2 linked regions of the Homo sapiens genome follow. The protein of the gene in region 1 purifies or fractionates together with the protein of each later gene. This does not show direct contact. Each region holds a gene or a part of one and is shown in the gene's direction. Other genes may lie near its edges. The genes, in order: EGLN2 and RUNX3.

The links.
Region 2: the proteins of EGLN2 (region 1) and RUNX3 purify together in Homo sapiens (affinity purification with western blotting, with the first as the bait; one study listed by BioGRID). This does not show direct contact.

Annotation. Positions count from the first base shown.
Region 1 is NC_000019.10:40,805,264-40,808,942, forward strand, and holds the end of EGLN2 (prolyl hydroxylase EGLN2), read left to right. Parts: intron 1-1,291; coding exon 1,292-1,411; intron 1,412-1,874; coding exon 1,875-2,011; intron 2,012-2,220; coding exon 2,221-2,288; intron 2,289-2,545; coding exon 2,546-2,601; 3' UTR 2,602-3,171; downstream 3,172-3,679. UniProt on the Homo sapiens protein: Prolyl hydroxylase that mediates hydroxylation of proline residues in target proteins, such as ATF4, IKBKB, CEP192 and HIF1A. Target proteins are preferentially recognized via a LXXLAP motif.
Region 2 is NC_000001.11:24,909,777-24,913,583, reverse strand, and holds part of RUNX3 (runt-related transcription factor 3), read left to right. Parts: intron 1-3,807. UniProt on the Homo sapiens protein: Forms the heterodimeric complex core-binding factor (CBF) with CBFB.

The DNA of each region.
Region 1 (3,679 bases):
TTGAAGGGTCCTTGTGCCAGTCCTCCCCTTTTTGTGTGCTACCTCATCTTGCCACTGCAGTGACTTTGGGCAGAGGGTGGGACAGGGACCTTTTAAAATTTTTAAATGGCATTTCAGCCTGTGCTCCAGTTCTCCATGTGGCAGGCACTGTGCTGGCTGTCTTCCCAGACACTTGTTATCTTGTTCACTTGTTCCACAACAACCTGTGAAATAGCTGTGAGCTCCATTGGATCCATGGATGAGGAACCTGAGACCAGGAAGTCACCTGCCTGATGCCACAGCTCATGTGGCAGCACTGAGACTTGAACCAGGGAATTGTGTCTGCAGAAGTGGCTGGGCCATTTCCTTTACCTCTCAGCCACCTTTCTGCCAGCTCCCTGATGACAAACATCCCGGGGCCCTGGCCACAGCATTGTAGGGCTGGGTCAGGGGAGTGGCAACTGTCAGGCAGAGGAAAGAACCCTGTAGACAGAGAAACCAAGCCCTGCAATGAGTCCTGTTAGATCTCCAGGAGTTGGGGCTCCAGAACCTCCCAAGTTATGTTCTCAGAGAGATTAATTGCTACCGCTGTAAACAGCAGTGTTTATTACCCCTGCTGTACACATCAGGCAGTTGAGGCCCATTCAGGTGTTGGAACTGGCTAGGGTTACCCAGCAAATTATCCTTGGAGTTGGAATTAGGTCTTTCTATTCAGACTGTAGCTTTTGGCTCCTGTTCGGAGGTCTATGGGACAGATAATTTAGTGGGGATTCTTTGTAGTCCAGGGCAGCAGTTCTTAACATTGCTGCATGGTAGAATTACCTGGGAAGCTTTACCAATTTCAGGCCCTTCCTTAGGCCAGGTACTTCAGAACCTCAGAGCTCCCCAGGGGGCTCCACTCCACAGCCAAGGGTAAGAATTCCTGGTCTAGGGCTGTGAGGCCACCTCCTTGCACACCTGAAAATGTTTAAATTGGTATTATTCTACTGAAATGGCTGAGGTGGGGTTTGGGGTATCTTGAAACAAATCAAACTCTGTTACTAATTGAGCCCTAGCTGGGTGCCAGGCCCCAGGTATGTGTGTTGGGAGGGAGTGGGCTCTTGAGGCCCAGGAGCTGAGGTTTCTGATAGACTTGGGGATGGGATTTTGGCTGAAAAAGAAAGTCTTTTGGGGCAGGAGCTTGGAACCCTTGACCCAAGGAGTCATGGGGAAGATGGGGCAAGGAGGGGTGGGAAAATAGGTAATTCATGGCTGCTTCTCTAAGATGTGCCTGCCTAGCCCCAGTAAACCTACCTCCCTCCATCCCTGCCAGGCCATGGTGGCGTGTTACCCAGGCAACGGGCTCGGGTACGTAAGGCACGTTGACAATCCCCACGGCGATGGGCGCTGCATCACCTGTATCTATTACCTGAATCAGAACTGGGACGTTAAGGTAGGGGTGAGGGTGAGGGTGAGGGTGGCGCTGGGGCTAGGGCTGGGGCGGGGGTGGCGTGCGTCCACTCCATTTTCCACTCTCAGCCCAGATTCTGGCATTCTCCTGTTTCTCTTCTCAACACACAGCGGGCAGTGCGATCTGCCGGCTCTTCCTGGGAAATGGCACCTCCTCCTCTCTAGCGGACTGTGTGGTGGGAACTCCCCTCTTTCCGGGAATGGTGCTGTCTGCCCAGCCCCACCCGGCCTTGTAATGAACACTTTCCCCCTTTTCCTGTCTTTAGTAGCTTCCTGCCCATCTCCATGGTGATGCAGTCTCTGGGTTGTCATTCACTTTGAGAGCCCGAGGGGTGGGAGGGAGTGATGCAGGCAGACGCTGCGCCTCCTAGTGGGCTCCCGGGGCACCGTGGGAGGCAGCGGCTCCTGGCCGTACCAGCTAGCCTCATCCTTTGGCCTGCCCCCAGGTGCATGGCGGCCTGCTGCAGATCTTCCCTGAGGGCCGGCCCGTGGTAGCCAACATCGAGCCACTCTTTGACCGGTTGCTCATTTTCTGGTCTGACCGGCGGAACCCCCACGAGGTGAAGCCAGCCTATGCCACCAGGTATGACCTGTACTTCTGGAGACGCACCCAGGTGCTCCCCCTGTGACAATGTCCTGTCAGAGCCTCAGAGTGACTAGGGAGCGACGAAGTATTGAGAGGGGGCCTAGGTGGGAGCAGAACCGGGTGGCTCAAAAGGATGGCCGCCTAGTGTGTGTGGATATGGTAGCTGGAATTGCAGAAAACTAATGTCCAACCACCCTGGTCTCCAGGTACGCCATCACTGTCTGGTATTTTGATGCCAAGGAGCGGGCAGCAGCCAAAGACAAGTATCAGCTAGGTACCTGCTTCCCTCCCTTCAGTCCTTCCTATTCTGTGGGCCCTCTTGGGCCTGATGCCACCCCATCCCCCTCATCAGCCTCTTGTTAAATCCCACCACTCATTTTTCTTCATCTCTGCCCACCTTCCTTAGCCCACTCTCCTGGTACCCCAACAGGAGCCCCATTTCTTCCTGGTCCTCTCCCCATCTCCCCAGGTTTCCCTTGGCTTCTTTGTCCTTCTGATGACTCACTGTCTCCTGTCCCCTCTCACCCCCAGCATCAGGACAGAAAGGTGTCCAAGTACCTGTATCACAGCCGCCTACGCCCACCTAGTGGCCAGTCCCAGAGCCGCATGGCAGACAGCTTAAATGACTTCAGGAGAGCCCTGGGCCTGTGCTGGCTGCTCCTTCCCTGCCACCGCTGCTGCTTCTGACTTTGCCTCTGTCCTGCCTGGTGTGGAGGGCTCTGTCTGTTGCTGAGGACCAAGGAGGAGAAGAGACCTTTGCTGCCCCATCATGGGGGCTGGGGTTGTCACCTGGACAGGGGGCAGCCGTGGAGGCCACCGTTACCAACTGAAGCTGGGGGCCTGGGTCCTACCCTGTCTGGTCATGACCCCATTAGGTATGGAGAGCTGGGAGGAGGCATTGTCACTTCCCACCAGGATGCAGGACTTGGGGTTGAGGTGAGTCATGGCCTCTTGCTGGCAATGGGGTGGGAGGAGTACCCCCAAGTCCTCTCACTCCTCCAGCCTGGAATGTGAAGTGACTCCCCAACCCCTTTGGCCATGGCAGGCACCTTTTGGACTGGGCTGCCACTGCTTGGGCAGAGTAAAAGGTGCCAGGAGGAGCATGGGTGTGGAAGTCCTGTCAGCCAAGAAATAAAAGTTTACCTCAGAGCTGCACACATCTGACTCCATCTGCAATTTAGGGCCTTTATTGACCGAGGAGGGTATGGAGGTTTGAGGGCCAGTGAGCCCACCATAGTGGAGCCTGACCTCAGCAGGCCACTGGCTGGAGCTGGAAGTCTGGGGGGACACTGCCCAGGCCAGTGCACTGCAGGTGAGGTTGATGGTGCCAGGGCGTACCACAGGGAGCAGGCAGAACCTCTGTAAGGTGGCCGTAAGGAATAGGAAGATACCCGAGTGGGCCAGGCCTGTGCCCAGGCACATCTGCTTTGCCGGGTACACAGGTGCACAGTGAGCACCAGGTACCCCAGAGCCAGTCCAGGCTGGTCCCCTTCCTCCTCTGCCTGCACCTGAGGCAAAGGGCATGAAAGCATCATTGCCCTGGAACTTGCCCTTGTCCAGGAAGTTGGTAGGGTTGAAGCAGTCTGGGTCTTTGAATTGAGTGGGGTCCCGGTGTGCAGTCACAAGCAGGGGAATCACAAAAGTGCCCTGGGGATACATGCAACT
Region 2 (3,807 bases), on another chromosome or scaffold:
CGCATCAGAGAGGAGCTGTTTGCCTAGGAGCAGATGGCCAAGTCAGAATGGGAACCCAGAACACCTTCCTCAAAGGCCAAGGCCTGGTGGGCTGTGTAATTCTTGAAACCTTTCCTGACCCTCGGGGGTTAGAGGTGTGATCCCCATTTTGCAGATAAGACAGCTGAGGCCCAGAAGGCAAGAGTGGCTTGCCCAAGACAGTGACCACTGGTGGGTGAGAGCTGCCTGGTATGAGCTTGGGGCCACTGGGCCCTTGGGAGGGGCAGGCTGGGATCTGCCCTCCCATAAGTGAGGGTCATAGACACTAATCCAGGCCATGCTGGAGGAGCTGTCTGATCTGAGCCCAGCAGCTGGAGGCTGACAGCAGCCAGGACAGGCCCTGAGGGCCAACGCGGGGCTTTCCCCAGCCATCTCAGTCCTCTGCTTTTAAAAGCATGTGGCCTGTCCTCCAGCTCATCGGCACCCTCAGGGGTTAGACAGTATGATAACCACTTTACAGATGTGGAAACTGTGGCCCAGAGGCAGAGAGTGACTTGGTGGTCTAGAGCAGGGTATGATTGGAAATTGCACTCTCAACCCTGAGCTTCAGAGCAGGGAAGGGCCCCTGGTGGAGTCCACTGAGACCTTCTCATCTTCCTCTCCCAAGTCCTATCCTCCTGGGCCTGCAGATAGCAGCTCTGGGCCTGGGGCTGGACGGGGCCCTAACATCTATTGTGGAGTCCCGATACATCTATTGATGTATCGAACCCAGGCTGGCTGTGAACCCCGCCCTCTTCCGCCACAATAGATGTGTTTTCACAGGCTCTAGGGAGAGCAGGTGGCTGTGTGTCTTCTGCTTGACCTTGAGCTCACTGGCTGTCCAGAGCCTCAGTTTTTTCACCCATATGATAGGATGGTGGCAGACATTACTCAAGGGGATGCTGCCAGGCGAAACAAGATGGTGCTTGTCAGCTGCTTAGACGCTGCCGTGGAGGAAGCACCCAGCAAGCATCTGCTGCCGTTTTGATGATTTCCACTCCTGCTGGCGACTGCTTTAAAGGACAGCCCTAGCCTGCAGAGGTGTGATGGGGATCTACTGTGGGAGAAGGGGGGCTTCCTGGAGGAGGGGCTCCTGGACTGGGCTTCACAGGACAGAAAGCATTGCTGGCAGAGGCTGTCCTGAGCTGAGGCTCTGAAGAGTGGGGGGCAGAGAATATTCAAGAAATACTGGGAACAGCAGCAGCAGGAAGAAGTGGTAGTGGGTGGGCCCTGGGGCCAGCAGCCCTGCCTTCTTTTCTTTCTGGGGCCCCTCTGACCAGCGGCTGATCTTTGCTACCTTAAATCAGGGACTTTCAAAAGGAAGGGGCCTCAGTGAGCAGACTGTGCAGAGGGGAAACTGAGGCGTAGCAGGACTGGGCCCAAGGTGACGGAGTGGGTTAGAGCCAGAGCTCCCCACGCAGCTCTTGCTCTGGGTAACCGAATGAAAGAGGCTTTTTCTGAAGACCATCTTCTTTCCTCAGGCACTGGAACTTCTGTCCTATTCCCAGTGTGAGAGCCCTGGCCCTGTGGCTCTGAGACTCTCTGGCGCCCTGGCCACGTGGGGCCGCCTTGGCTCCCCTCTCCCCTCCCTGGCAGTGGCTCCAGCGTTCCACAGTAACAAGGAAGCTATTTCCGAAGTGCTGTTGGACTCCCCTCCTCCGGGAAGTCTGCCCTACGGAGGGCAAGGGAGCATGTGGTGGGAGCGTGGGTTCCGGGGTCAGATTACCTGACCCACAGCCTGGGTCCCGGAACAGGCGCTCAGCGTCGGTCTCATGGTGAAGCCTCGGTGGCCCCGTCTAAACAATGGGAACAAAAGGGAAAGTGTCAGGAAAAGAGCCCTGGGCTTGGAGTCGGGGGATCCGGGTGTGAATCCTGCCTTGCTGCTCAGGCTCTGTGTTCCTCACACGACTTCAGCATCCTGGCCTCCACACCCCGGTCTCCAGCATGGGGATGATAGTTCTGCTTCCTTTGGGCATGAGCAGAGATAAAAGCGATGGTCATGATGGTGGTGACCCACGTGACTGGAAAGTGTCCACACCTTAGGCCAGCACCTCAACCCACAAAGACAGTGTGATGGGGACACCGCAGCTCGGGGTGGGGGAAAGGAGTGTGACTTGAGTGAGGCCACCAGACTGCAAGTGACAGGACCCGTCCTCGAACCCAGGCTGGCTGTCAACCCCGCCCTCTTCCGCCAGGCCGCAGGAGTAACTGTAAACACTCTTTGTACATGGTGTGACTCAGAAACAGGGGACTTTATTCTCCTGTGACGAAAGTAACAAGGCCTGAGGTTTTGCACCAGCCCTATTGGCTCCCTTCAAGCTTGTGGCTGACTAAAACACCCAGATCCTTTGCACTCAGGCTGTTGTCGGATCAGTCTGTGGTCCCCACGTCCACCCGGCAGGCTTCATGCCTGTTAAGATTCTTCTGCTCACTTGTCCCCCAGCTCATCCACATCTCCCTGCCATTTCCAGTGGCCTCAGGAGCAAGGACAACATTTCCTCCAAGGCCTGTTAGGGCTGAGGACTCGGTCTGGAATTGGAAGCTCTGGCCGTACTGGGCCTGCCCTCCTCAGGGTAGCAGTCAGGTGCTTTCCACAAGGCATCTCCTCCCCATCCGCTCCAGGCCCCACCCATCCCACTTGCCTCGTTCACGTGACTTGCCCCATCCCCATGGGCATCTGAGTTTGCAGCCCCAGCTCCAGCTAAACTCGCCCCCAGCCCATGTTTTCCCCTTTGTTGCCAAGGGCCCTGGGAGGCAGCAGTGGGGGCCTGGCCAGAGACCAAATGGTCTTATTCCTGCCACCAAGTGTCCCATGGATTCCTGGTCTGGGGCCTCATTGGAGGAGAAGGTGGGGCTCCCTGGTTCTTGGTGACTGGCTGAGCCCCTGTGGCTCCCAGGCCCCCTGCTTTCTTTCTGAGGCTCCCAGATACCTGTTTGAGCTTCCAACAGGGATGCGTAGGGAGCTTGGGGGCCTACAAGTACCAGAATCCATTGCGTTCCCATTCTGAAAATCAGAAATCAGGCCCATGCGAGGCCTCGGGCTCTGTCCCCTCATGCCCTACAGTGGTCGACAGGCTTTTCCCACTTTTCGAGTCCCCAGCAATCACTTGTTCAGGCCCCAAGAAGCGCAGTGAGTTCTGTTTTACCTCCCACCTACATCTTGCCTCTTCTCCCTCTGCCAAACTAGAAAACGCACATGTCATTCTAGACCCAAGGCCTTAGGCAAACCTTCTCCTCCCCCTTACCCCCTCCCACATTTTTTTTTTTTTTTTTTTTTGAGATGGAATCTTGCTCTGTCACCTAGGCTGGAGTGCAGTGGTGTGATCTTGGCTCACTGCAACCTCCGCCTCCCGGGTTCAAGCGATTCTCCTGCCTCAGCCTCCCAAGTAGTTGGGATCATAGGCGCCCGCCACCACGCCCGGCTAATTTTTGTACTTTTAGTAGAGACGGGGTTTCACCATATTGGTCAGGCTGGTTTCAAACTCCTGACCTCACTCAGGTGATCCGCCCGCCTCGGCTTCCCAAAGCGCTGGGATTACAGGCGTAGCCACCATGCCTAGCCTCCATCTTTTCTAAAGGGTCCCAGGTCCAGGAAATCCCACCCCTTGTTCGGCGTGTGGCCTCCAACAAGCTTCCTCGCCTCTCCGCAGTTGCAGTTCTCTTACTTGTAAAAGAGGGCCTGGCCACCCTGCCTGACTGGCAGCCTCCCACCAAGTCACGTGAGGTAGAATGGCCGTGACCGTGTTAGGGTTGATCAGCCGAACCCTGGAGTGCACAGTCCTCCAAGGG